Linked DNA regions of Homo sapiens: regions 1, 2 and 4 are each linked to region 3. A link means that fine-mapping ties the variant in region 3 to the plasma level of a protein whose gene starts in the linked region. Region 3 holds a variant in brackets. A gene starts in each other region. All regions are shown on their forward strands. Distances are between the middles of the regions.

Region 1 (3,038 bases), not on the chromosome of region 3:
TCTTCCTCCATGCCAGCCTTGCTGTCATCCTGGGGGCGGAGAGGGATGGAGATCAGAGTGTTAGTGTCCCCCAGCCCCATCCCCTGCTGGGCCAGGCTGGGGAGGGCCAGGGAGAGGGGTGAGGGGTCAGGAGTGAGGTGCATTCTGCAAGAACAGCTGAATGAAGGAAGGAAGGAAGGAATGATTGAATTGGTGAGCCAGTGGGGACAGGCTGGACCAAGAAGGCCACAACGAGAGCTGGGGAGATGGAGACCCTGCATATGCCTGGCCTATGCGGTGGCCTCCTCTGCGGTCCCCCAAGGCTTCCCCCGTCCCCTGATCACCTTGTCCAGCAGCAGGAAGATAGGCACGATGATGAAGAGGATGATCAGCAGCGTCTGGATCATGATGATACCATCCTTCAGCGTGTTCCTCTGCTTCAGCTGTGCCAAGGTGCTGAATCCTGCGGGGACAGGGGTGGGGTTGTGAGCCTGGGCCACAGTCCACCTTTTAGGCCTACAAGGGCAGCTCCCTCAGGTCCCAGTGGCTCTCCTGAGTGCTCTAGGGCCATGACCATCACCACAAGAGGCAGGCCGGGCTAGGGTGGGGCGGACAGCTACAGGAGCGTCCCAGCCACCTGGCACACACCCATGACTCGCAGCTCTGTGCCGCAGCCCTGGTAGACCTCCGAGGTGTTGTTGCACTTCTGCTGACAGAAGTAGATGCCATTGTCCTCAAACCGGATGCCTTGGATGGTGAGGGTGGCGAGAGATTCGTTCTGGGACTCTTCCATGCGGCCCTTTTCCAGCTTCAGCTGCTGGGGATTCTCGTCCATCTCCTGCTTCCAGAGCCAGCTCACATTGCCGGAGGCGCTGTTCATGTAGCAGTGCATTTTCACCGTGAAGCCCCGTTTCCTGGCTATGAAACGTGGGCTCTGCCAGATCCGCGAACAAGCACTACCTGTGGGTGCCAAGGCCAGGCTCAGCATTCCGCTTGGCATCTTCCTGAGTGCCAGCCCCAGCAGCAGGCCCCTGCCCTGGCTGGCACAGACTCCCTGGGCTTAGTCCTTGCTTCTCAGGGTGTGGGACAGGCAGGAGGCTGAGGTTGGAGTTGGGAAGCAGAGCCACGTGAGAGGCTGAGCCACATGAGAAGCCACGGCCAAGCTCTCAGACTCCACCTCTTCCCGACTGCCCCACCTCCCCTTCGATTTTCCTTTGGAAGAGCCCTGGGACCTTGCCATTCCTTCCTATGCCCATTACAACAGCCTGACCCAGGCCACACCCCCAGGACCTGGAGGCCCACAGGCCTGGCCCCTCCTTTCACTGGGCTGCCCTGCACAGGCTTGAAATCCTCAGTCTCCCCCGTTCCTCCAGGGATAAAGGCCAAATTCCTAGTCTGTCAACTGAGACCTTCCTCAGTCGACCCCCTCCCTGCATGACTTCCCTCTATCATCCCCCTCTTCCCTCCTGCAGGGACTGGGTCCACTTCTTGTTCCAGAACCCTCTTTCCAGCTTCGACTGCCTTGTTCTTAGTGAGCACTGCCCGGGAATCCCTGAGCCCCTCACATAGTGACCCTGCACTGGAGGGCTCACCCGAGACTCAGCCAGATTCCCAGCTAGACAGGCCCGGGCCTGAGTCCTAGAGGAACCCCCAGGCTCCCTTGCTATGACCCAGAGTTTAGCCCAGCCCTTCAGTGGCCAAGGCTGGAGGGCATGTGTCTGATGAGGATGACAGTGGGCTGGGGGTGGGGCTCAGAGGAGATCCTAAGGAGGCCTGGGGATGGGAATCCTGGATGGGGAGATCAGGCAAGGGTGGGAAGGCGGACCGCCCCCAGGACAGGGACCATAGTCGGACACAGGACATAGTCGCACACAACTTGCCCTCAGAAGCGGCAGGCGAGGCTACTGACCTTTGGGATTCCGGTACCGGTCCTCCGATCTGGCTGCTGGTACTGGCTCAGCTGCTGGGTGGGAGGAAGTGGGCGGGGCCAGTCAGGGCCTCCTCTGGCCTGGGCTGCCCCACCCCTGCATGCCCTCTATGTTCCCGGAGCTACTTCCTCCTTCCATGACAGCAGCTTCAAGACCCCTCGGTCCTCCCTGCCCCCAGTACTTGGGAGACAGATATGGGGTGGGGGTACCGGAAGCCCTGCCCCCAGCCCCCTTTCTGCCTTTGACCCTCATGGTGGCTTTGAGCAGGCATCTGAATGAGACAGGAGGGACAGGGAAATCTCAGTATTTTGAGAGGCCAAGACAGGAGGATCGCTTGGGTCCAGGAGTTTGAGACCAGCCTGGGCAACATAGGGACACCCTGTCTCTCTTTTTTTTTTTTTTTTTAAAGAGAGACAGGAAGAAAGTCACAGCCCGGAGGATCTTTCACCTCCCAGAGGAGGGGACCACATTTGGATCTTGCATCTTCCAGGGTCCGGTTGGGACAGCCTCTCCCCTCCCGACCCCCAGGCACCGCCCTCAGCCTCTCTTCCTCCTGAGCCTAGTTCTTCCACGGTCCTGGTTGCTAACTCTGGTTTGCTCCTCATGCCCAGCTCAGCCTGATGCTCTCCAGGCAGGAGAGGAACTGGGGCCACAGGCTCCTGAGCCCATCACCACGTGCAGCTGACACCCACAGACCCAGGCCCCAGGGCCATGAGAGGGAGACAGGCGGTAAAGAGTGAGAGACAGAGGAGGAGGGTGGAGCAAGCAGGAGGCAGAGCCGCAGGGCCCAGACAGCTGGAGATGAGAGCAAACCCCACAGGCCTCGTCGTGGGTTCTGTACCTGAGAGCAGCAGCAGCAACGCCACCATCCAGTGGCTGGGCACAGGAGACAACGCCAGCCTGGCCATGGTCACCGCTCTGTCCCCGACCCCAAACCCGTGACAACGTCCGAGGCTCCTTGGAGGAAAACGTGTAACTGCACCGGCTGCAGCCTGTCCCCTCCCCGCCTCTTCCTCACCAGGCCCCTTCCTGCCATGCAAATTGGGACCCAGGGGAGGCACCAGCTCTCCGGGGACCCTGGGGGAGGGCAGGCTTTTGTCAGCTGGGCCGCTAAGGTTTGGCGGTCGCCCA
Region 2 (8,171 bases), not on the chromosome of region 3:
TTGTGGGTGGGGGAAATTGTTGGAGGTCTCATCTTTGTTTTAAAGTACCTGTGGCATGGGGTCTGCCCTTTGAAGGCAAGAGCTCTTCACCTGCCCAGCTCTTCCCCAGCTTAGGACAGGAAGGAGAGAGACACAGTGTGAGCGAGAGAAGCATCTGATTGTGAGTGTCAGATGAGGACAGCTGCTACTCTCTGGTCACCCATACATGTTAATTACCCCTGTCATTTAAACCATTGTTTTGTGTAACTAGAACAAAGTATTCTTTCCACGAAGTCTGTTTGACACGAGACACATATAGGATGTGAGTCTATGACAAGGGTAGGGGCAACAAATGTGAGGGGTTGGATGGAAACAGAGGAAGAGAAATGAGCATTGCATAGGGCAGTGGTTTAAAACCCTACATGATCAAAAATAGAACCTGGAGACAAATCTTGATATTGTCTTTATACATAATAAAATGCATTTTAAAATATTCGATGCAAACAAAGCAGTTTGTCATGTCTTTTGTTTTGAGTCTCTTTAGTATATGCTGCTTTTGAAGATCAAGAACATTTACTGGAAATTGCTCCTTCACCAGGAATTTGCTCACATCTCTTCAGGTCCACTTATAAGATCTTGAAATCAGTCCTCCTGAGATCAGTACAAACGAGGATCATCTCTCCTGCTTTAGAAGCAAAAGTGGCAAGCAGGGTAGACAGAGGCAGAAGGAAGGATGGTACTGATAAATCAGCCAAATTAGATGGAAGAAAGCGAATTACAGCTGTACTTGCAAAGAACTCTTGGCTCATTTTTTCCCTTAAATATTAAATCACTAGTTTTCAAAACTTCAAATGTGAACATGACTCACCTGAGGACAATGTTAAAATGTTGACCTCCAAGACCCTGCCCCCAAGTTTGGATCCCAGGCAGAACCCTGGAATCTGTATTTTAAACATTAACCCCAAGTCGAGTGTAATGCAAGTAACCATCAGAGACACTCTGAGAAACAGCACATTGGCAATGATGAATTTATATGTCTAAAAATGAATAGAGTAGATGTTACATGAATAGGAAGTGGTGGTATTCAAGATGACCATAGTATCTAGCTCTTCAGCCCTGGCTCCCCACTGCTCTTCTCCCATCTCAGCACTTCTCCATCTATTTCGTCCAAATAAAAAAATTCACACAGAGTTTCAGGACTTAACCCCCCACTCATTAACCATCTGTTTTGCTTTACATATTTTTCTGAGGTAATAAAATTTCTCTTTTTCTAAACACAGCCTGTTTTTCAATCTCCGGGTAGTTGATCAATTGTATGGGAAAATGAATGGCTGAAGGGTAGAAACAGGTGGGAAAGATGAACAAAAACACGAATCCTCACATTACTAATACGCAAATCACTGAGCAGCAAGCTGAGCAAATACCCTCAATTCCCATCAGCAACTTTAGAGAAAGGCAAATTCCGTTTGCCTCATTGATCATTTAGGTAGACCCTGAACACTGCTTTCATAAAACAAAAACAAAATACCCATCCCCAGTTTAAAAAATTATTCATAGATCATCCAGGCCATCTAGGAGGATATGATTTAATCCTGGCTACTTGGTAAATTATTTGCCCAAGTTAACTCAGCTAGTTAGTGGTAGATGGCTCTGAAGCCAGTTGTTTTTTTTTGTTTTGTTTTTTGCAGACCTCAAGAGTCATGATGAACTAGCAGATCATAAAGTTTATGCCCTGGGTCTTGACCATTTTTAGAAAAATAAAACATTAAATGAAAATATCAGAGGGCATTGCAGATAGTAGATCTAAGTATTTTTTCATGAAACTTGTTGTACATGTGTGTGTCATACACAGACTATATATATGCAGTACCTGTAAACTGTATTGCCACATAATGTCTATATTTTCCTAGAGGTCACAGTCACCAAAGTTGGGAAGTCACCCAACTTCGGGAACTTTGGGAAGTCACCCAAACTTACAGTCACCAAAATTGCTCTATTCTACTATGTGACCTCAAAAGTGATTTGAAAGAAGGAACATCTGAGCTGGGCCCAAACCCTATTGCAATTTTATTGGGGCCAAAGAGAACTCCATGCTCCTGCCAAATCAAGGCAGTGTCAGCCTCAATAATTTCCCAGATAAAAATAAAAATCTGTGATACAATCAGAATGTGAAAATTCTTATTTTGGAAGCAAATGTCATAACCAATGCAAGGGCTATCTCAATATTCATTCATTATGCAGTATTTTGAACTGCAGTTGAAATGAATAAGAAGGAAAGGCAAACAACGAAGAGTCCAATTTCTCAATTTAGAAAAAGAGAAAAAAAAGAAAAGGGAGCACACAGGCACGGTGGCTCAAGCCTGTAATATCAGCACTTTGGCGGATCACTTGAGGTCAAGGAGTTCGAGAAAAGAGAGCACCTAGAAGTTCAGCGCGGGATAATACTTAAGTAAATTATGACACCATCGTCTGTCATCTTGGGCCCATTCACTAACCCAAAGCTTTCAAAAGGGCTTTCTTAACCCTCACCTAGAATAGGCTTCCGCAGCCTTAATCCTTAGGGTGGCAGAATATCAGGGACCCTGAGCATTCTTAAAAGATGTAGCTCGGGATGGGAAGTTCTTTTAATGACAAAGCAAATGAAGTTTCATTATGTCGAGGAACTTTGAGGAAGTCACAGAATCCACGATTTAAAAATATATTTCCTATTATACACCCATACACACACACACACACCTACTTTCTAGAATAAAAACCAAAGCCATATGGGTCTGCTGCTGACTTTTTATATGTTGTAGAGTTATATCAAGTTATGTCAAGATGTTCAGTCACCTTGAAGAGGCTTTTATCAGAAAGGGGGACGCCTTTCTGATAAAGGTTAAGGGGTAACCTTAAGCTCTTACCCCTCTGAAGGTAAAATCAAGGTGCGTTCAGATGTTGGCTTGTTGTAAATTTCTTTTTTTATTAATAACATACTAAATGTGGATTTGCTTTAATCTTCGAAACTCTTCCCGGTGAAAATCTCATTTACAAGAAAACTGGACTGACATGTTTCACTTTCTGTTTCATTTCTATACACAGCTTTATTCCTAGGACACCAACACTAGATACCTAAACTGAAAGCTTCCGCCGATTTCACCGAAGGTCAGGAAAGTCCAACGCCCGGCAAACTGGATTTGCTGCCTTGGGCAGAGGTGGGCGGGACCCCGCCTCCGGGCCTGGCGCAACGCTGAGCAGCTGGCGCGTCCCGCGCGGCCCCAGTTCTGCGCAGCTTCCCGAGGCTCCGCACCAGCCGCGCTTCTGTCCGCCTGCAGGTAGGGAGCGTTGTTCCTCCGCGGGTGCCCACGGCCCAGTATCTCTGGCTAGCTCGCTGGGCACTTTAGGACGGAGGGTCTCTACACCCTTTCTTTGGGATGGAGAGAGGAGAAGGGAAAGGGAACGCGATGGTCTAGGGGGCAGTAGAGCCAATTACCTGTTGGGGTTAATAAGAACAGGCAATGCATCTGGCCTTCCTCCAGGCGCGATTCAGTTTTGCTCTAAAAATAATTTATACCTCTAAAAATAAATAAGATAGGTAGTATAGGATAGGTAGTCATTCTTATGCGACTGTGTGTTCAGAATATAGCTCTGATGCTAGGCTGGAGGTCTGGACACGGGTCCAAGTCCACCGCCAGCTGCTTGCTAGTAACATGACTTGTGTAAGTTATCCCAGCTGCAGCATCTAAGTAAGTCTCTTCCTGCGCTAAGCAGGTCCAGGATCCCTGAACGGAATTTATTTGCTCTGTCCATTCTGAGAACCCAAAGGAGTCCTAAAAGAGGAATGGAGGAGCCTAAGAATAAAAATAGTATAATAAAACATTTCTTAGACACATTGACCTTGGCCTATGTCAAAGTTCAGTCTGGGTTTGTCTTATAACACAAGGAGTAAAAGTACCATTGTTCTACCTCTTTTTTTAATACTTGAAAAAAATTTACTGTGGATGCTTTTCTATGAATTAAATAACCTTCTAAAAAATGTTTTCATTGCTGCATTCGATTAGATTGGGTAACTAAATGAAATTAATTCCTCACTGTTGGGTATAAAGGTTATTTACAGTGGTTCTGTCTTAGCCATTCACTGAACTCATTGCATATATATCTCTGGAATATTGCTGATTGTTTCCTTCAAGTAAACTTAGAAGTGTAACTACTTAGTCAAAGAGCCTGAATATTTTAAAGGCCTTTTGAAGAAAACTGAAAATGCTTTCCAGAAAGGATGTATCAGTTGACAATGACAGTCGTCAACAGTATTTAAGGAGAACTATGATACTCTGAAGAAAAACTTAGCCTTTCTCAGTAAAAGTAGGTAGGCAGAGGCCACATGACAGCAGTTAGAGTGTGGTCTTCAAGGAAGTCACAGAAATACTGTGGGGAATTGAAACCCCATGTGGAAAATGTACAAGAGTGTCTCAGTGTGACTGAGAAGGAGGTTGGGCATGGGGTTTCATGGAGTTTAATAAAGTTTGGTCACTTAGTAGAGGTTTAATAAATCAACTGTCTTAATCTTTGATCCTACTTAAGAATTTTTTTTTTGTTTTTGTAGAGATGGGGCTCTTGTTATGTTGCCCAGGCTGTTCTCGAACTCCTAGCCTCAGGCGATCCTCCCTCCTCAGGCTCCAGAAGTCCTGGGATTACTGGCGGGAGCCACCATGCAGGCCTCTTGCTCCTACTTTTGAGAAAGGAAGTTTAACCGGTTTTTTTTGTCTTTTTTTTTTTTTTTTTGAGACAGAGTCTCACTCTGTTGCCCATGCTGGAGTGCAGTGGTGCAATCTCAGCTCACTGCCTCCCGGGTTCAAGTGATTCTCCTGCCTCAGCCTCCCGAGTAGCTGGGACTACAGGCACCTGCCACCACGCCCAGCTAATTTTTGTATTTTTAGTAGAAATGGGGTTTCACCATATTGGCCAGGCTGATCTCGAACTCCTGACCTCAGGTGATCCGCCTGCCTCGGCCTCCCAAAGTGCTGGGATTACAGGCATGAGCCACTGCTCCTGGCTGCTTAACTTTTTCTCTATCTCATCCTCCTACCCATCCTACCCTTGGAAGATAGAGAAGTAGTATTAGTTCCATAGTGTTATACTGGGCTTCCCCCAGGGACAAACCCACTTCCCCAACCTGAATGAGCCATCACTTCTTCCCCAGTTTACATTTCATTGCTCTTTAAATGTCTCCATTCGGATATGGGAATTCACATATGGTCATAATTCTTACCTGAAGAAGATGTCAGTCTTCTTCTCTTAGACCAACTGCCCTGATATGAGGTTTAGAGGTTAAAGAACATGTGTGTATTTACATGATCTTTGTATTCTGCCTTTTCGTCCCTCACTAATGACAGCTGCACCCCAAGGAAATGGAGCTGTGGAAGAGAGGGTTTGATAAGAAATTAAGTAAATATTGGATCTAATCCATCACCCTCCAGGAAGCCTTTATTACTCCTAAAAATTTCAACCAAATTCATTAAAGGACAAGAACTCCACCAGAGTAGGCCATAAACATTGGCAAAATTAGTTGTAATCCATGACTAGATTTAATGTCCCTTTGTTTTATTCCCATATGGTTATAATGCTTTGCTTGGCATTAGGGGTATTTTAAGTTTTCTTCTGCCTAGTAAGTGAATTTGTGTTTATAATACAATAATCATAAAATATCACATTAATATTTTATAACTGTACAGTTATAAAATATTTTATAAGTAATATTTATATTTTATAAGTAATATTTTATAACTGTACAGTTAACTCTGGCCCAAGGAAAAGATAGTCTGATAGATGCTGCAGCCCCATTTTAGCAAATGTGACCTCACAGGCCTGAATGCCATCGCTATTCCACATCTACAGGATAGACGGAAAGGAAAGAAATAAAAAAATAGGTACCTAACACTGGCAAGAGGATGATGACTCATGTTATTTCACTTAACCTTTTTATCTTTTAACATGAAGGACTCATACAGGTTGATAAGAAACCAGTGACATAAACAGACCAAAAAATGATCAGATCTTTCAAATTAGCAAAAAAATAATATTTTTTAAACAATGGGTGAAAATACAGTGTAACAGTACCAATTATCAACATGTGTTGAGAACCAGAAAAATGTTCTTTTTCTTTGATCAGCAACACTATTTGGGAAAATCTATCCTCAGGGCCTAGCCTGGGGCCCTGGCACACAGTAGGCACTCAACGAATATTTGCTGAACACACAAATACTTATGATATTTTAAAAAATTGGCAACAATCTGATACCTAACAATAGAGGGATTAAATATTATGGAACTGTTAAATAAGATGCTTATGAATACCATGCAGTAAGATGGGCAATATTTATGCCATAAGCTTTAATGAAACAAATGGGTATTAAATGTATGATAAGGTTATAAATTACTTTTTAAAAGATTACAGGGAAAAAAATTGAAAGATATACACTGAAATGTTTTTTGCTCACAGTGGTGACAAGGTTTCTCAGCACTGGCACTGTTGACGTTTTAGGCTGTATGTCTTTGCTGTGGGAGGCTGGCCTGTGCACTGCAGGGTGTTTGGCAGCACTCTTGGCCTCTGCCCCTAGATAGCAATAGCAGTCCTCCCTCAACCAGCCCAATTTTGACAACCAAAAATGTTTCCAGGCATCACCAGATGCTCCCTGGGTGAGAGTGATGAAATAGTAGGGGATTTTCCCCTTCTTTTCTTATTTTCTGTAATTCCATTATATTACTTTAATAATAAAGAAAAAAACATAAAAAATAAACGAATGTTATTATTCTACGTCAGTTTGGATGTTTGGACTCCATTTTGGGGTTCTTTCCATTATATCACTTGGTCTGCTAAACATTCTACGGTTTGGTAAGGTGAAGTGATTCATGAAATTTTGGTTTTATTTTTTTCCTGATACTAAAAATAAAACATTCTTTCACTTGGAAATTTGGACACAGAACACCAAAAAAAATCCATAATCTCATCTCTCTTTTTCTGTCTTTTCCTTCCTTTTTTCCCTTTAAAAACAATAAAGAGTGAAACCTACCTGTTCTCCCTCTAATTTAATTCCTAAATATAATCACTGTCAATATCTTGGACATTTCCTGTGTCTAAACACACACACACACTTTTTTTTTTCAGCAAAAGTGGATTTCTGCTACATGTAGTGTTCTGCAACTTACTTTCTATGTGTTTACAAAATCAGTACATGTACATATGCTGAATTCAGTCCTTAATGGTATTATATTTTGTGAATATACCAAAATTTGTTTAACCACTTAGACAATCTAGGATATTCTCAGTTTGCTGTTATGAGCAATGCTCTTCCTTTACATATACAGACATATATATATATATGTGTGTGTGTGTGTTTTTGTTTTAGTAGGATAGATTTCTAGGAGAGGGTGAAAGGTCTTATGACATCCGCATTTACGATTGTAATAGGAAGTATCAAAGTGCCCCCTAAAGAAAAAAATCCTCCCATTAGTGGGTAAGAAAGCCTATTTGTTCATATCTTCACAAACACTAAATATTAGAAATATTTACAATTGTGGTCAAGCTCATAAGTGAAAATGGTATTTCATATCTTATATTTTTTATTGTGAGATTGAACATCTTTCATATGTTTACATGTCACCTGTATTTCTTATTCTCTGAACTATATGTTATGACCTTTCACTTTTTTTCCTCATGGGTTATGTGTAGTTTGTATAGTTGTCTTATTGATTGTTAGGAGCTATTTATATATTAGGAACATTAATCTCCTGTCTTATATATACGTGGCATCGATTAGTTGATCATTTGTGAGTTCATGTCTGTATACAAAGATTGGAGAGGCACTAAGAGGGAAAACTTACCTCTTTCTTATCAAAGTTTGTAAATATATGTATAACAGAAGAGGGAGAAAATATTAATAAATGCACAGATTGGCTGAAATAGAGTATAAATCTTTTACTCCCCTACTTCAACATAAACTGCAAAAGGAGAGTGACTTTTCTTTCACTCTGACTTCCGTATTCCTCATGCTTAAAATAGTGCCTAGCACAGAAGAGGTGCTCAATCAGTGTTTGCTAAACGAAATAATTAGTCACATTTCAAGCAGGATGACTAAATGAAGAATAGAATCTAGGCAGATACTCTGGAAGAGTGGCTGTGAGTCATTCATATCTTAGTATGAATTAGTCAAATC
Region 3 (8,171 bases):
TGTAAACTGCTTCAATTTGGACCTAAAGGTAACAAAACATTGCCTTTTGTTTGTGGGCACACGGTTGGAATAATTAAGTACCTTTACAAACTGAAATTTTGGAAAAATGAAACACTGAGAGATATGATATTGAAAATTCTGTTCAACAATAGACTGTGGATAGCTTAACTTTCAGAAGTGTCACAGGTTTGACCTAAGGAAGCAACATCACTTGATAAAATGCTAATGCTTTTTGGCTTCTAAATGTGTATTAAGATGACCAGAAAATTTCTGCTAGCAGAACAGTTTCAGATACATCTATACTAATGGCATGGACTTATCAGAAGAAGAAGACAGGAGTGAAGGCTTTTTAAGGGCTTCTATTTTCTGTATTAAATATGAAAAGGACTTCTTAATCAGCATTGTGTGACTTCATATGGAAAAATACGTATTTGTGGAATGACATTTCTAGAAAAGGCAATCTGGAGAACATTTTATTGTTCAGATTTTAAGGATGTTGTTACTTAGTGTACTTATATAATCTGTTAACTAGTACCTGTAATGGTACAATATGGCCTGATACATAGCTGGGAGACAAAAAAGGGGTGCTTTCTGAATCTTGTTCAATATTTCTCAAAGTGTAGCTGAGGAAGCAGCTACAACACAATCACCCGGGATGTTTGTTTGAAGTTTCAGATTCTGATTCCCAATCATAAAGTCTGAATCAGAAAGTCTGATTGAATATTTGGAGCAGGACTCAGAAGCCAACACTTCTAACAAGTGTATCTGTTGATTCTGATGCAGGGGAGAAACACTGATGTATGTAGTAATGGTATAGGACAAATGATAACCGCTACAGACTGTGTAGCTTCTTAGGATATCCTAAGTGAATACATTTGTTGATTTCATAACACTATTACCATTGATTTCTGTTACATTAATAAATATTAACAATTAGACTGTATCTTGTTGCTAATTAATATAGCTGTACAGTTCTATAAAGAGCTATTACACAAAAAGGGGGCTTTTCAATACTTTTATCAAAAGATCACTCTATAACAATCACAGTTCAATAAATTTATAGACTAAAGTTTTCAAAAAATATCTTTTAAATAATGCCCTTTTAATGCAAGGTCCTTAAGGGGATACTGTTCACCAAGAATTCTTATTTTCTGGTAGAATTAATCATGTCTCATAACCTTTCTCTGGTACAGGAAGCACATGCTGTACCATAATCCTGTAGTCCTAACCCATGTACCATACACACACATGAGCTTTTAAAACAAGTCAATACTTTAAATATTTTACATTGTGTTCAAATAAAATGTGATCAAAGTAATAAATACTAAAACAACAATGCCTTTGTTAGAGTGACTCTTGTATGGACATAGACATAGAATTCATCTATTGTATGGGATGTATAATTATTAGAATTTAAAATTATTATGTGACTGCTGACTAGACATGAAAATAATCTAATTACGTTACACAAGATATTATCATGGTATCCACTGAAACAAAATTATATATGTACTTGAGTGTGTGTACACACACCCAAATACATATATACGTATATAATTTAAGGCTTGTTAATGCAAGATACTTACTACTATTAATAATGTAGCTTGGAATCATTTTACCTTTTAATATTGCTGCTGAAATTCCAGTGGTAGCACAAAATAGGGGGAAAAAAAGCAAATGCATTAAAGAGTTACAAGAAATAATAATTTGCCTATGTTAGATGTGCCTAAATGCATATATGTAGGCAAGAAGATCTGAGTTTAGAAAAGGGCCCAGGAAAAAAAAATCAGGTATACAGAGGATTTAAGACTAGAAAACCTTTGTATTCTGTTCTGTTTCCATCTATACATTGTTATATACAAACAACCTACTTGCTCACTCCATTGCTCATAAATAATTGACATTTCAAAGAATCTCAAAGAAGAATAAAGCAATACAAGAAGACAAAATTAGGCTAGCATGATTATGCTAGCATGATTATCACCGAACATTTTTTTTTAAATGTCCCACTTGGAAGTCACATTGAATTGAATCAGTTTCCTACATATCTGTCAAACACCCCAGGGGATGTAACAACCCTGTACTATTATGCAACTTCATCTATTTAAGGGTATGGGAGAACTTTAGCTCTCTCTTCAGGTCTCTCCAGCAGACAGGAAAGACTGCTACCACAAGCAAGATCTGAAGGCTCACATTCCCTCATTTCTCCTCTATCCCTGGGTGTGAAACTATGTAAGAATACTAGTAAGGCCTTGCATTTATATTGTAATTTGGGTTTCAAAGACATTTCAAATTACTAACAAACATTTTGGCCTACAGAGGACTATCTACTCTCATAAATTAAGACATGCTATCTTGTTTTTCAGAAACAGCCATTTGTAACTCTTATATCCATGTGATAAACTTAGATCTCATTGGGAAGAAGCTGCTAGATTTCTATTGCCTTCACCAAGACAGCAGTCATTTGATTATAGGTGGCCTGTTGAGACTAACTACTATGATATTGTATACAACATTCTATATATGTCTTCTCATTCCTTATAAAAGACATGTAAGATGTAGTATCAGTGAAATCAAATTGTGAACATTTCCGGATGTTAAAATGGCTTTCCTGAAGCAGTCTCTTGTATTTTTATCACCTGAACAGACTCAGGGCAAAAATTACAAATCACACATAAAAACATATGTCTAAAAACATCCTAACTCAGAAAACAAAGCAAAATAAATGTTTTATTATTCTTATTTCCAAAAGAAAAATATATTTTGAAATCATCTTCTAAAAGTTTTACTTGTTTTCACAGTGAACCCCCCAAAACAATTTTTTGTGACTCATTCTTGTTATCAAACTAGCAAAATTAATATTACGCTGCATAAAAAAACAAATGGTATTTTACTCTTACCTCGATCTTTTGCTTTATCAGAGAGGAGCACTTCTACCTCCTCATATTCCCGGATGGCATCCAGTATGATACTTCCTTCTTTGCTGAATAAGAACAGCATGGGGATCTTGATGTCATCTGTATCCTTTCCATCACCTGCCATCTGGAACAGAG[G/A]GGCAGTATCACTGCTGCTCCCCTCATTGTCATCTAGCCAGAAAATAAATACAGCAAACATCAAAATATCCAGCCATTAAAAAGATCTATCTACTAATTGTTACTGATTTTTTACAATGACAGAATTAATTTTATGCATCAAGAACCATAAAAACCAACATAATTTTTGGACCCATTAATTCTCATAGAAACGTATCCAAAGGAAATAATTCAAAAGTAGCGAAAAGCCCTATGCCCAAATAATTTTACTAGACTATTTATAATTGTAAACAACTGTACACCATTATAAGTAAATTATAATGACCTACTTGATAGGACACACAGAATAATAATACATTTAAAAAGTAGAATACAGAATTCTATGATTATGACTATAAAAATTTCATATGCTTATGGAAAAGCCTAGAAAGGAAAAAATCAATGACTCGGATTACAGTGATAGAACTATGAATGAATTTTATTGTTGAAAATTTCCACTACTGGCATGATTACATTGTTTTACCAAACTAAAAATGGACATTTCTTTTTTATATAATGCACACAAAGAATAGTTATGACTATAGTGCTTCTTCCTCTATAAGCTAAACTAAACAGTATTGCTATTTTGCATTGGTTAAATAATAGTAGTAGAACTATTAATAGTAGTAGTACCAGCAACATGCTGTTTTACTGAAGACGACAATCACGACCACCTCCAAATCGCATGCCAGTCTCCCAGAAGAAACTATCTGTCCTGTCTCAGGGTGCTCACTCTCATAGGACCTGCTAAGTGCAGAATGCATGACCCATCCTCTTGGTAATAATTGATTAGACAAAAGATGGCTACCTGACCCTGAGTCTCTCTGGGGGACCTGGAACTGGCACACAGAAAGACTGTTTCAGTTAGCAGGGGGTAATAGTCCAGTTGAATGACACAGACTTAGGGGCTGAGGCTGCAAACTAGAATGGCCATTTTGGAACTGAGGAACAAAGAGAGAGAAGGCTGGTGAGAAGCTGGAAAATGAAGCAGAATTGCAAAGAGAAGCAGGGAAGAAAAGTTCAGAAGGACCCAGAGGTAGAGATACAGAGAGAAAAGTGAAAAACATTCACTATCATGGATCCTGGTGATTTTTAGTTCCCACTTCTACCTCCTGGTGAATCCTAGTTGTATTTGTACTGTTTAATTCACTAAAAATAATCCATTTCTGTGTAGTGAAAAAACCTCCCTTCTTAAACCAACGTAATTATCTCCTGCAGCCACATGATTTCTAAGATAATTCGTATTTCTAACCCTTGCAACAAAAAACAGCTAATTCCTAATTTATTCATTTATATACAATTAAAACAAAAACAAAATGCTTTGTCAGAAACAAAAAACTCAGGAGAAAGAAGTCAACACAAGAAAGTTTCTCATTAAAAATTAAATTTTTGGCTGGGTGCGGTGGCTCATGGCTGTAATCCCAGCACTTTTGGAGGCCAAGGCAGACCACTTGAGGCCATGAGTTTGAGACCAACTTGGCCAACACAGCGAAACCCCTTCTCTACTAAAAATACAAAAATTAGCCAGGCTTGGTGGCACGTGCCTGTAATCCCAGCTACTCAGGAGGCTGAGGCATAAGACCTACTTAAACCTAGAGGTGGAGGTTGTAGTGAGCCAAGATCATGCCACTGCACTCTAGCCTGGGTGACAAAGCAAGACTCTGTCTCAAAAAAAAAAAAAAAAAAAAAAAAAAAAAAATTTCTGAGAGTAAGGATCATCATCTCTTATTTATTTATCCACAGAACCCAGTATACCATTTTCCAACTAATAGCTACCAAAAAAAACATTTGACGGGCCAGGCTTGGTGGCTCATGACTGTAATCCCAGCACTGTGGGAGGCCAAGGCAGGCAGAACACCTGAGGTCAGGCGTTCAAGACCAGCCTGGCCAACATGGAGAAACCCCATCTCTACTAAAAAGAAAAAAATATATATAAAAATTAGCCAGGCGTGGTGGCAGGCACCTGTAATCCCAGCTACTCGGGAGACTGAGGCAGGGAGAATTGCTTGAACCTGAGAGATGGAGGTTGCAGTGAGCCAAGATCACGCCACTGCATTCCAACCTGGGTGACAGAGCAAGACACCATCTCAAAACAAACAAAACAAAAATTGACAATTATTGCATACTATAGAAGATCATGAGAATTAGACTTCACTGAAAAATATAAAAAACCAAAATACTACACAAAGAAATATTTTTAAACATTAATGCATAAATTCTACACTTTATACTTTACATTTTCATTTTGAAGTCTTGGTAAGAACTGTTCAAAATGATAGTGATGGTTAATATAATAAATTCTGCAATAAAACTAATCTAAGTGTGGGAAATACCCAAGGATAAAGAGCATGATTTAAGTCAGGGGTCGGCAAATCTCTTCTGTAACTGGCTAGATGATGAATAAATATTTCAGGCTTTGTAGTTCTCTCCTGTAAGTACTCAACTCCATCACTGCAGTTCAAAGCAGTCATAGACCATACACAAACAAATTGGCATGACTGTGTCCCAATAAAACTTTTATTTACAAAAATGGGCAATGAGCTGGATTTGGCCTATAGTCTTGTAGTTTGCCAACTGCTGATTTAAGTCATTAAACAGGACTTCTCCTAATGTTTATTAATAAAATTTATGCATCCATTAAATCAACATAATAAGTGTTAATATTCTGTTTTACCTGAACTATTTTTTTTTATTTACCTTAACTATTGGGCGGCAGGGGAGGGGGGAATCCAAAATGGATTTCCCTGTGAGAGAAGCTGTACAAAAGAACTCACAATCAGCATATTGTGAGCCCAGGTCTTACAGTTCTTTCTGAATGTAAACTCCTATTTACTTTAAAACAGAAAAATTTATATTTCCCCTAATAGTCATGGCCTGTTTATCATGATATAAGTGATTGTCTATGAAAGATAAAAAAGCAAAACCCACTAGTTGATACATATAGGTAAGATGATTTAAAGGTGGTAACTTGTCATTTCGGTAGAAAAAGATCCAAGGGGATAAAGATCTGCTAGCAATACTGTAAACCCTGTTATAGTAGCACTTATCCTATGTCTGCTATTATGCCAAGAAATTTTATATATCTTTAAACCTTACAATCACCTAAAATATATTTATTATCACTTCCACTGGAGCTCAAAAATATTCTACTATCAAATAAAAAAAAATTATACTATTTAATCTACAGATTAAAAAACTGAAGCTAGGCCAAGGTTACACTGCAATTTTGTGGTAGAGCCAGGAACTGTACTCTCATGTGTCTGCCTCCAAAGCCTGCATCTTTGTGGAGTAATGGAAATTTTCAATGGCTCCCCACTGGACGTGGCACAGTGTAATTCTTGCCCTTCGGGGGTTATGGATCTCATGGGCACCTTTTCTTATCCATGGTACTGAATTTTTTTACTACTCAGCCCTACCTCACCCTCACACCTAAACCCAAGTATTTTCACTGACATTAATATACAGAAATTCAAATCTAGACTTTTAAAAAAGATGTTAGATATCTAGAAATTAAAAGTCATTGGATTACCTATCCTTGTTGTCTAGGTGAGGTAAAAAAAACTATGACAAACTCTTTGATAAAATTTTAGAAAATAAAAGGGAAAAAATCCTAAAAATTATCTCCCCTTCAGTCAACACAATGACATGGATGATTACTTACCAATAACAATGCCACCAATGGCTCCAGCATTCTGGATGTTGCGTGCCTTTTCTGCAAACATGCACTGTCCTCTTTGTATCAGTGCGATTTTTCCCATCACTGCCTCTGGGTTAGTAAGCTCTGAACAACCATTGGATGGTTTACTGCTTGCAACAAATCCTCTTGTCTGTCAGAAATAAAAGCAACTTAAATACTTTAATCTTCTCAAATGGCAATCAAGTCATTAAACCTCAATATCTAGAGTTTTAAAAGAACTAGAACTCATTTCTTTTCTAATGATAACGTATCTAACATATAGTCACCATAAAATATTGTTTTAAACATTTTGCATATCACAGTACTCAACCAATATTTCTAGTGTGCTTTGCAGTTTATAGAACATTTTTATATAAACTACAAAATCTGTTATTTATAATGACCCTGAGCAAAACAATACAAATAACATTTCCCTTTCACATATGGGGAAATTGAGACTCAGGTTACGTAATTTGCTCACAATGTTAACACGATGTTACTAAGCAGTAAAGTTGGGACCTGCAGGCAGATTCACTACATTTACAATAGCTGGGAACTAATTTGAAATGATCATTGGTAACAAGAAAAGTTTTTGAAAGGGGAAAAAATGGACTTAGTCTATATGAATCTGCAAGCAGTTCTTTTTACCAAAAAAATTAAATCCACCAAGGAACTAATTTTTTTAAACACGTTACTATAAAGATGTTTTAATATCCTTCACTCTACTAAAATGTAAATTCCATAAGGGCATGGATCTTCATTGGTTTTGTAAACTGATACAGCAAGCAGTGCACAGAATATAGTAGGCACTCAATCAACAGTTGAATGAATCAATCAATCTATATAGCTTCTACATAGTTTAAAATATACATGAGAAAAAAGTCTAAATTAGCAGTAATAGAGTGAAAAGAGCATTGGCTTTAGATTGTCACGATACTTGGGCTCTGGTCCCAGCTCTGCAATCAATTAGTTAGATAACTTTGTGAATTGCTTAGTTATGTAAGTCTTTGTTTTCTACGTTATAACTATGTTACAACTATAGAGGATGGACTAGCTAAATGATCTTCAAAGTTTGCCCAGTGGAACCTCAGGGTCCCAGGCTTTCTCCAGTCACTTGAGCCAGAGCTTCTGTGCTTTTAGCTGTTTTCTACATTAAGCTCCTGGTTTAGACTTTTGTTCAAAGAAAGGTTCTAGTGGCTCTTAGAAAGTCTGAAAACCATTTTTAGATCAATTACAGGTATTAAATTAGAGAAGAGACCAAGAAATTGAATAGAACCTGAATAATATTTTAGTTAAAATTCTGTAAGCATATTATATACATAAATTATGACTCAAAGTTTTCAAGACATGCTTTTACTTTACTTAAATCCAGGAGATTGACTATTTCAGTTTTTTAAATAAATTAAAACTACTAAATTAGAGAA
Region 4 (8,171 bases), 25 Mb after region 3:
TCACAACATGTGGAAATTGTGGGAGATATAATTCAAGTTGAGATTTGGGTGGGGACACAGCCAGACCCTATCAATTCTCATGTAATGCAAAGATCCTCTCCTGTTTCAACGTTGCAGTGTTATTCTCCCAGGAAAGGCAGAACCTCTGAACACAGTGTTTACCTACTTTTTACTCTGAGGTTTGCCCAACAAGATTTCATTTTCAAATGGGAGCACTTGCTTAACAAATCTACTAAATAGTCATGAAAAGCACTACAGCTGCCACCTTCTAAATGACAGGTGTTTCTTTCATGATCAACGTTTTATGCCAAATGCAAGGAACTTCCCCTCTGGCTGCCCCTCCTCACATTTTTGCCATCTCCTATCAGTCTCCCCAGATCTGGCCCATCCTTCACAGTCCCATTCTTGTTCATTCAGCCCCTATGTTCTTCTCACTCTGTTGCTTGTGCTTGATTCCATTTATTCTGGTGAGAATGATCAAATCAGAGAGAATTCCTGGCTGGGCTCTAATACTCACCTCCAGCAGTGAAAAGCCCATTCTGTGCAGGTAGGCTCCAGGTATCTGCTGAAAGCCTGCTCTGGAATGGGAATGGTCAGTGTATTACAAAGGAGGGTGCAAGGAGTGGAGTGAACTGTTCACTGTTTTTCTATGGAACTTTAATTCAATCAGGGAATACTTGACTTGAAACAAATGCTAGCTGAAACAGTTGTATTTCATTTTGTCTTTATTATTTTTTAAAACTTTGTTGACAACCCCAGAAAGAAGATTTGGGGGATGGGATTGATCTGTTCTGACCAGAATGCTGAATCCCAGTGATTTCCCCAGATTAAACCAGGCTCCAGGAAGACAGCAATTTTCTCATTGCTGCAGTATCTCAAAAACACTAAAACAGCAAGTTTATTGAATGCCTATTTTGGAGCAAGGCTAGTGGGAAATGGAAAGAGACAAAGATGAAAAAGACATAATCTATGTCCTCCAGGAGTTTACAAGCTAATGAGAGAACCAGCCATGTAAATATGGACACAAAGTGGATTAGATGTTTATTATATAATATGGTCAAAGTGTGGTCCCCATGGGTCTCTGAGACCCTCTTGAAGGGTTGAAAGGTCAAAACTATTTTCATAATTATACTAAGACATTACCTGACTTTTCCAGAGGCTACAGGATGTATGCTAATGCCACTGCCCTGAATGCTAATGGAATGTATGCTTATGTATTCTTGAGCTTTAGAAAAAAATCCTCAGTCTTAATTTCTAATGCATAAATTGCAATAGCAATATCAATAGGTAAAACCTACACAGGCAAAAGTTCTTTGAGGTCCTTGGAAATTATTAAGAGTATACAAGGGTCCTGAGACCAAAAATTTGAGAACTGGTAAGATTTAATGCATCAACTACCATTACACAGTGTCCTTGTTTCTCATCAATGCATTTTATATAGCAATTATTTTATCTAATCCCATGAAACTCACTTTATTGGATGCTTTTGCCATATCCTTATTTTCTAGCATCGTAGCTATTAGGTCATCTAATTATTAATCTGTTTGTGTCTTTGGGTTTAAATGTGTCTTTTGAGGCCACACAATGTTGGACTTCATTTTTTAATGGAGCCAACAATCAGCAATTGTTAATGCATTTGCTTTGTGTTCTATTACTCTGCAGTTTATCTTACTCATTGTTATTTTTGCTTTCTTTAAATTTATGTTTTCTTAATGGACTTTAAAATTCTTTATTTATTTTTTATGTCAGACAATAAACATCCCTAGTCTGCCCATCTTTCTATCATTTCAACATCATCATATTTCCAAATAACTTTTCATTGTTTCCTATAATTTTACTATTAATAGTATAGGATTAAGAAAATAAACCTTATCTGGGTTCTGGCTGGCACTGCCTTCCCTCTAGGGATGAAAATGGAGTGTAGTCTGTAATATATCCTGGTATCATAAATATATTTATAAAATTATACAAATGTAGCTTGCAGTTCTAAAGGCATGTAATCTAATTTTTACTTGAATTTTATCTTTTTTCTCTTTTTGTCCTTCATAGACCTCGAGCTCTGTCTAGCCCTCAACTGTTCTCAAATCTCCATTGTTTTCTACAAGTGACCCTCACAGCTGTGGGCCTTTGTTGACAAATTGTTTCATCTCCTCTGGGTCTTAAATTATTTTCTCTTACTCTAAAGTGAAAATTTGATGAATGTTTCCAGATACTGCACTTGGAATCATAACTTAATTTCCCTTAACCTTGTGTAAATTCTGTCCCCCCACTACTCCCAACTCCTATCCCTCCTCCAAAGCACTGATACTTATTATCACATTTAAATTTTTTCCCCGCTCTACTGATAACTTACAGAATGCAGGACTGCATTGTGATGGGGTAATTTCCATGAGTTGATTGGTTGGTTTTGAGTTGAAAAACTTAACAATGATACATCTTAAATTCTTTCTTTGAGGATTATTCCTTAATGAATTCGTGCTACGGACATACTGAGGTGGTTATTTTTATATTTCCCTGATAATAAATTCTAAATTGCTAAGGGTTTCTTACCACCCTCGTCCTTTTACTGTTACTAGATCTATTTTTAGCTGGTGTGGGCGTCCCCAGCTAGTTTCACTTGCCTAATGCTAGTTCTTTTTTCTTCTACATCAGGTCGCCTCTTCCTAGCATCTTCTCCATGTTTCTTGTTGCTCTACAGCATTTACAAGACCCAGTTTAATAGTTTAGTGCCTTTTTTGTCACTCATTATTTCTTCTTTGTTCTCTGTTAAAATAATAAGTGTATGATCCATTGCACTTGCCTTAGAGTCTTGAACCAGTCTTGGATTTCCCGCCATCTGGGTTCTGGCTGGCTTGCAATTTCTCCTTTGATGTTGTAATACTTTTTCATTGAACTTGAGTGTGGGGCTTATAGAGCTTCTTTGCTTTCATTATTTTTTCCCAAAATGTGCACATTTTTTTTCTTAAGCTTATTTTGCTGTTTTGTGCTGTTATTTTTAATTGCTTCCCACTGGGTGGGGGGGTAGGGGGACTGAGAGTGAGATTTGGCTTGAGTTTGGCTCTCTTTGCTATTACTCACATTTCCCCCCAGAAGCCCTACATGCACTCCTCTCTCTCTGTCTTTGACAAATTACTTTTGAAAGATCATTGATCCCTGGCGTAAATGGTGTTAAGAGTAAGATGGACTCGGGTAGGGATGCTCAGGAATCCAGTCCTGTACAGTCATGAGCTTGGCCATCTGGAAGTCTCCTCTTGCTCAATGAAATGGAGTAAACATTGTCCATTATGAAATCCACCACACAGGCTGCCAGGGACGAATGGGATCCCACCCAAAGCCAATCGCTGCTCTGACAGGGAAATTGGCTAGCACTGCCTGAGACTACTCCAGCCTCCCCCGTCCCTGATGTCACAATTCAGAGGCTGCTGCCTGCTTAGGAGGTTGTAGAAAGCTCTGTAGGTTCTCTCTGTGTGTCCTACAGGAGTCTTCAGGCCAGCTCCCTGTCGGATGGCTTTTATGAAAAAATATCTCCTCCCCATTCTGGGGCTCTTCATGGCCTACTACTACTATTCTGCAAACGAGGAATTCAGACCAGGTAAGTACCCATGCGTCTCATTTTGGAGGAATAGGTTTAAAAAACACAGGGGTGCTTGAGTGTTCCTGAGGACCAAGATGTGTTCTTGATCCTCAAAGTTGGTGAAAATGAGGGAACCCTGAGTTAAGATGGTATTTTTGTGTCCTCCAGCTACAGGCTGTGGACAGGGGGGACTGTGTAGGAAGGGTAATCGTGTAGCCAAAATCTAGCCAAATAGGCCATGCTTTATTTGGCACCCTTAATGGAAAGCAGTTTCAAATCTTCTACAAAAATGAGAGTAATACCCAAATTCACAACTCAGCAGCTAATTGGGCTCTATGAAGAGACTGATAAGTGGGAGGCAAAAAAAAAAAAAAAAAAAACTGGAGATGATGACTACATAGAAGTGAGGGAAAATCCCTGGAATTTCTATGAACACATGTGTTTTGATTCCTTGTTAAATGTACTTTCAATTGAGCAAAATTGAAAGAGTCCAGAAATGTCTGGAACTCCAGCATTTTAGCTGAACCATGACTTTTCTGGCTTCATCCTATGATCTCTTTCCATGGAGGTTTTTAGAAATGACAGTAGGGAGGCTGTCAGCCCAAACCTCCCACTTCAGAGCATGTTTATGAAAGACCTGGCCTGTTCCCACAGTGATTTACGGAGTTTGTGACAAACTGATCTGGGCTCATAACCTTTAAGTTACAAATTGCGATAAGCATGCCTATATCCAGAGAGGGAGAAGGAATTTTGCTGCCAACTTGGGTATGGTCCTCACTTCCTTTTGGGGTTCCCCAGAGATGCTCCAAGGAAAGAAAGTGATTGTCACAGGGGCCAGCAAAGGGATCGGAAGAGAGATGGCTTATCATCTGGCGAAGATGGGAGCCCATGTGGTGGTGACAGCGAGGTCAAAAGAAACTCTACAGAAGGTGAGGGTTCTATGCTCGCAGATATGTGTACCGTCACATGCTCAGATGTGTTCTTATATATGCTCACATATACACAGAAGCTAGCATATCGCAGATCTATATACAGAGGCACATGCACACACACAGACACTTAATTTTGCACTCTCATATATAGATTCAAACACCAAAAAACCCACAGGAATATAAAAGTATGCATTTAAGCATTCATTCATGTGTGTGTGTGTAATATATTCTGCAACAGAGTCCTTGAGTTATATATGCTCACAGACATGCCTAGTCACACACATTTACACATGGAACTACAGATACATACGGATGTTTTCAAAAACTGAAATCCCAGTACCTGCTTATGAATACATATCCTCATACCCATGCAGACTCCCAGACACATGCCCTCTCATGGACTCACAAACCCAAGGATGTACAAACATTCACAAACCTAGAGCTACCCACATAGTAACCAGCATCTACACTCATAATGCCCTCAGAAATGCCTATTCACAGAAGCCATGAGCATAAATCATGAACTTAAACCCCAGCACTGGGATGATTTATCCATTTGAACCCCACCAAGTTCCAGAAAATATTTCAGACAGAGGACGATGATCATGAGGGTTATATTAGGCAACACACACACAAACATACTTACCATTTCTTACCTAAACAGGGCTGTGAGCAATCTCTCATTTAAGCCCCCCGTTACTTCAGAGACTACCCCCCAAAAATCTGCAGCTAAGACTGATGCCATTTCTGCTGTATCACTGCAGGTGGTATCCCACTGCCTGGAGCTTGGAGCAGCCTCAGCACACTACATTGCTGGCACCATGGAAGACATGACCTTCGCAGAGCAATTTGTTGCCCAAGCAGGAAAGCTCATGGGTGAGGCTGTTTCTCTTACCTCCTCCTCTGAACTTTGCCCTTGGGGTCACCAAGAGCTTTTGGGAGGAGAATGGGAAAGGTATCAACCCCAGATGATTTCTTAATATAGCCATCTCTTGCAGGAGGACTAGACATGCTCATTCTCAACCACATCACCAACACTTCTTTGAATCTTTTTCATGATGATATTCACCATGTGCGCAAAAGCATGGAAGTCAACTTCCTCAGTTACGTGGTCCTGACTGTAGCTGCCTTGCCCATGCTGAAGCAGAGCAATGGAAGCATTGTTGTCGTCTCCTCTCTGGCTGGTAAGTGGGACAGGGACATATGTGGAAGGTAGAAGAAAAAAAAAAATGCCAGGGATGATGCCAGGCTCTGAAGTAGACATAAATTTTTATCAGTTTCCATGCAGAGAAGTAATGAGGGATTGGTCAAGGTAAGTGGGCTACAAAATTCTTTTAAGTAACAGAGAAAAAGCAGTAGCTCTGAGTGCTCATTGGAAGACTGAATTGTTTTCTACAAAGTAAGGTCAAAGGGACTTGAGGGGCTGCTGGAGGTACAGCCTGTCCTGGTCCTAAGGGAGAGACCTAGTTACAATATTAACTTGAAGTTGAAATGTTCATAGTAATATTAAACAAAAGCTGATTAACAGCTTACTCATATGCATGAATGGGCAGATGTACTGATAAGAGACTTGTAGGGGGGTGATTTGTGGACTCAATGAGAGGCACGCATCCTGAGTAAAGGAGACACTGTTACAAACTAGTGACACCATAAAAAATGAAGGATTGGTCAAGGTAGATGGGCTACAAAATTCTTTTAAGTAGCAGAGAAAAAGCAGTAGTTCAGAGTGCCTATTGGAAGCCTGAATTGTTTTCTACAAAGGAAGGTTGAAGGGACTTGAGAGGCTGCTGGAGGTACAGCTTGTCCTGGTCCTAAGTGAGAGACCTAGTCACAATGGATAAAAAGGACTTTGCTTCCTCCATGACCAAAAGGTTGGTGAAGTTATGTAAATGTGAAGGTACAACTGAGAAGTTAACTGTTTTAACAACACACAGGTGTCTGATAAGTGGGCTAAGCTAAAGCTAAATAAAATGAACAACAAGAAAAAAAAAAAAGATGAACAGACCTGCCTATAGTGGGTGTATTCTCTAAAATTTGAACATGTTAACATGAAAAGATCAATTTAAACAACCAGCTGGGTAGGGAGGAAATGTGTCCAGAGAAATGGTCATGAAAAGATATCTGTGGGATCAAGAGAGGTCCCTGGTGTTCTGGATGGTGGTAGCATCAGAAGCCATCACCAGTAAAAAACCAGTGAGTTCCCAGCTTGGGACATTTCTAGGCCCATTTTTATCATAGATCCAGGAGACAAGTTCCACACATCTTTGTTGATTAGTCAGTTAGAAGGATGTGGCTGGAAAGTGCAAACACCAGGATCAAAATCCGCCATCTAAATGTTGTTCCTGGCAAAATAAAAACAAATAACCTAGAGGACTCTGTAAACTGTTAAGCACTTCACAAACATTCTTATTGAAACTAATAGCACCATCTGTATCGTAAAGAGTTCTCCTTTCTGGCCCAGGGACGGCCTGCATAGTGATTGGATAAAGGGGCAGTGTGTCTGTGCTACCCGCCAAACAGTGTGATTGATATGCATCCCGGTGCTTCCCAGACAACACACACTCCCCACCCCTCCCCAGACACAGACTCTCTCTGGGCTGGAAGAAAGGGAGAGCTTCCAGATGCATACTGAGTGGGAGGGTGCTGGGCACATCCCCAATCCATCCCAGGGCATTGGACAAAATCCTCACATCAGTCATGATGTAGGTGGCTTTAATGATTTCAGCTGATTAAATAATACATTCACTCTAGGCAAAGGATGTATTTCACCTTTGACGAATGTAACTTTCTAGAATGTACCCATGATCTAAATGTGCTCAGAAGGACTAAGAATTACTGTTGAGCCCAAGGACGTGATGAAATTCTGATAATCTCTGTTTCCCCATATCTCCTACACTTATTGAATGACACTTGGTAATTTCCATGAACTCTGGGAGGTAGGAAATCTAGCTGGATGAGTATCTTTGGTGTTTATTGCTTGTGTAGCCAAAAGATTCCAGCTTTTTTGCCTTGAAACCTGTCTATGAACTTGCAAAGTACAGACACATTGCTGTCTTGCCGCAACTGAAGAATATTCTCTGCTTTATGATGTATTCTTTTAATCAGTCAGTAAACATGTTCATTAATCCTTCCTCTTTAAAATCTAAACTCTATAAATATGGGATGCTAAACATCAAGTTGATCTTAAGGTCAGCCAAACAGTACTGGGATGGAGTTTTAATCATTTCTTCTAGGGAATACCTTAAGTTGTTTATTGAGTTTCAGTGATAAAGAATTGTTTTTTCTCCACAATGCATTTCTGGGTATTGCATTACATGGGAATACTATACTTCTAATATGTTCCTTAAAGGCTTGGTTACCTCTGTAGCATTAACAGAGACAATACTGCTGCTTCTGGGAACCTCCTTGTAGTCCACATCTATCCACTATTCACCACCTTTTCTTGGCACCTATTGAGCAAGTTTCTTGTATGTGTAACATCCCGTTACATTGATTAGCCTCCTCTCCTTCCACCACTTGCTAGTTAGGATGTAAGTTCAGCTACTGTAACGAAGACCCGAATTTACAATGGCTTAAGCAAATCTAAATTTATTTATCTCACACAAAACACCCTGGAAAGGCAGTCCAGGGCTGATATGGTAGTTCTGTCCTATGAGGCTGTCCAG

Alleles and levels. Alleles are on the strand shown, and positions count from the first base shown. The strength of an association depends on the size of the effect and on how common the allele is.
For the plasma level of the protein whose gene starts at base 2,885 in region 1, G is the low allele of the variant in region 3 and A is the other (moderate association).
With allele A in place of G in region 3, the plasma level of the protein whose gene starts at base 3,239 in region 2 is higher (weak association).
In carriers of allele G in region 3, the plasma level of the protein whose gene starts at base 3,408 in region 4 tends to be lower than with A alone (weak association).

The links. PIP is the posterior inclusion probability: the model's chance that the variant is causal. The UK Biobank Pharma Proteomics Project read protein levels with antibody pairs (Olink). The fine-mapping took linkage between variants from a reference panel, not from the people measured, so its PIPs are less certain.
Region 1: CD79B starts here. The variant in region 3 is fine-mapped to the plasma level of the CD79B protein (UK Biobank, PIP 0.93).
Region 2: it holds the start of CD274, and the variant in region 3 is fine-mapped to the plasma level of the CD274 protein (UK Biobank, PIP above 0.99).
Region 4: HSD11B1 starts here. The variant in region 3 is fine-mapped to the plasma level of the HSD11B1 protein (UK Biobank, PIP above 0.99).

Annotation. Positions count from the first base shown.
Region 1 is chr17:63,929,447-63,932,484 of GRCh38, forward strand. It overlaps CD79B (CD79b molecule), which reads right to left and starts at 2,885. Exons shown (of 6, transcript NM_000626.4): 1 at 2,749-2,885; 2 at 1,889-1,939; 3 at 628-939; 4 at 324-442; 5 at 1-29. The coding sequence starts at 2,815. RefSeq lists a silencer at 1,735-1,804 and enhancers at 2,502-2,891, 2,865-3,038.
Region 2 is chr9:5,447,304-5,455,474 of GRCh38, forward strand. CD274 (CD274 molecule) reads left to right here and starts at 3,239. Exons shown (of 7, transcript NM_014143.4): 1 at 3,239-3,293. RefSeq lists enhancers at 3,016-3,065, 3,356-3,515.
Region 3 is chr1:184,699,911-184,708,081 of GRCh38, forward strand. EDEM3 (ER degradation enhancing alpha-mannosidase like protein 3) reads right to left here. Exons shown (of 20, transcript NM_025191.4): 18 at 6,733-6,898; 19 at 2,901-3,086. Among named protein-coding and RNA genes, the nearest start is that of EDEM3, 51 kb to the right of the region's middle. The variant G/A (reference allele first, on the strand shown) is at 3,054.
Region 4 is chr1:209,701,439-209,709,609 of GRCh38, forward strand. HSD11B1 (hydroxysteroid 11-beta dehydrogenase 1) reads left to right here and starts at 3,408. Exons shown (of 6, transcript NM_005525.4): 1 at 3,408-3,592; 2 at 4,373-4,503; 3 at 5,271-5,382; 4 at 5,505-5,690. The coding sequence starts at 3,505. All of the region lies in intron 1 of HSD11B1-AS1 (HSD11B1 antisense RNA 1), which reads right to left.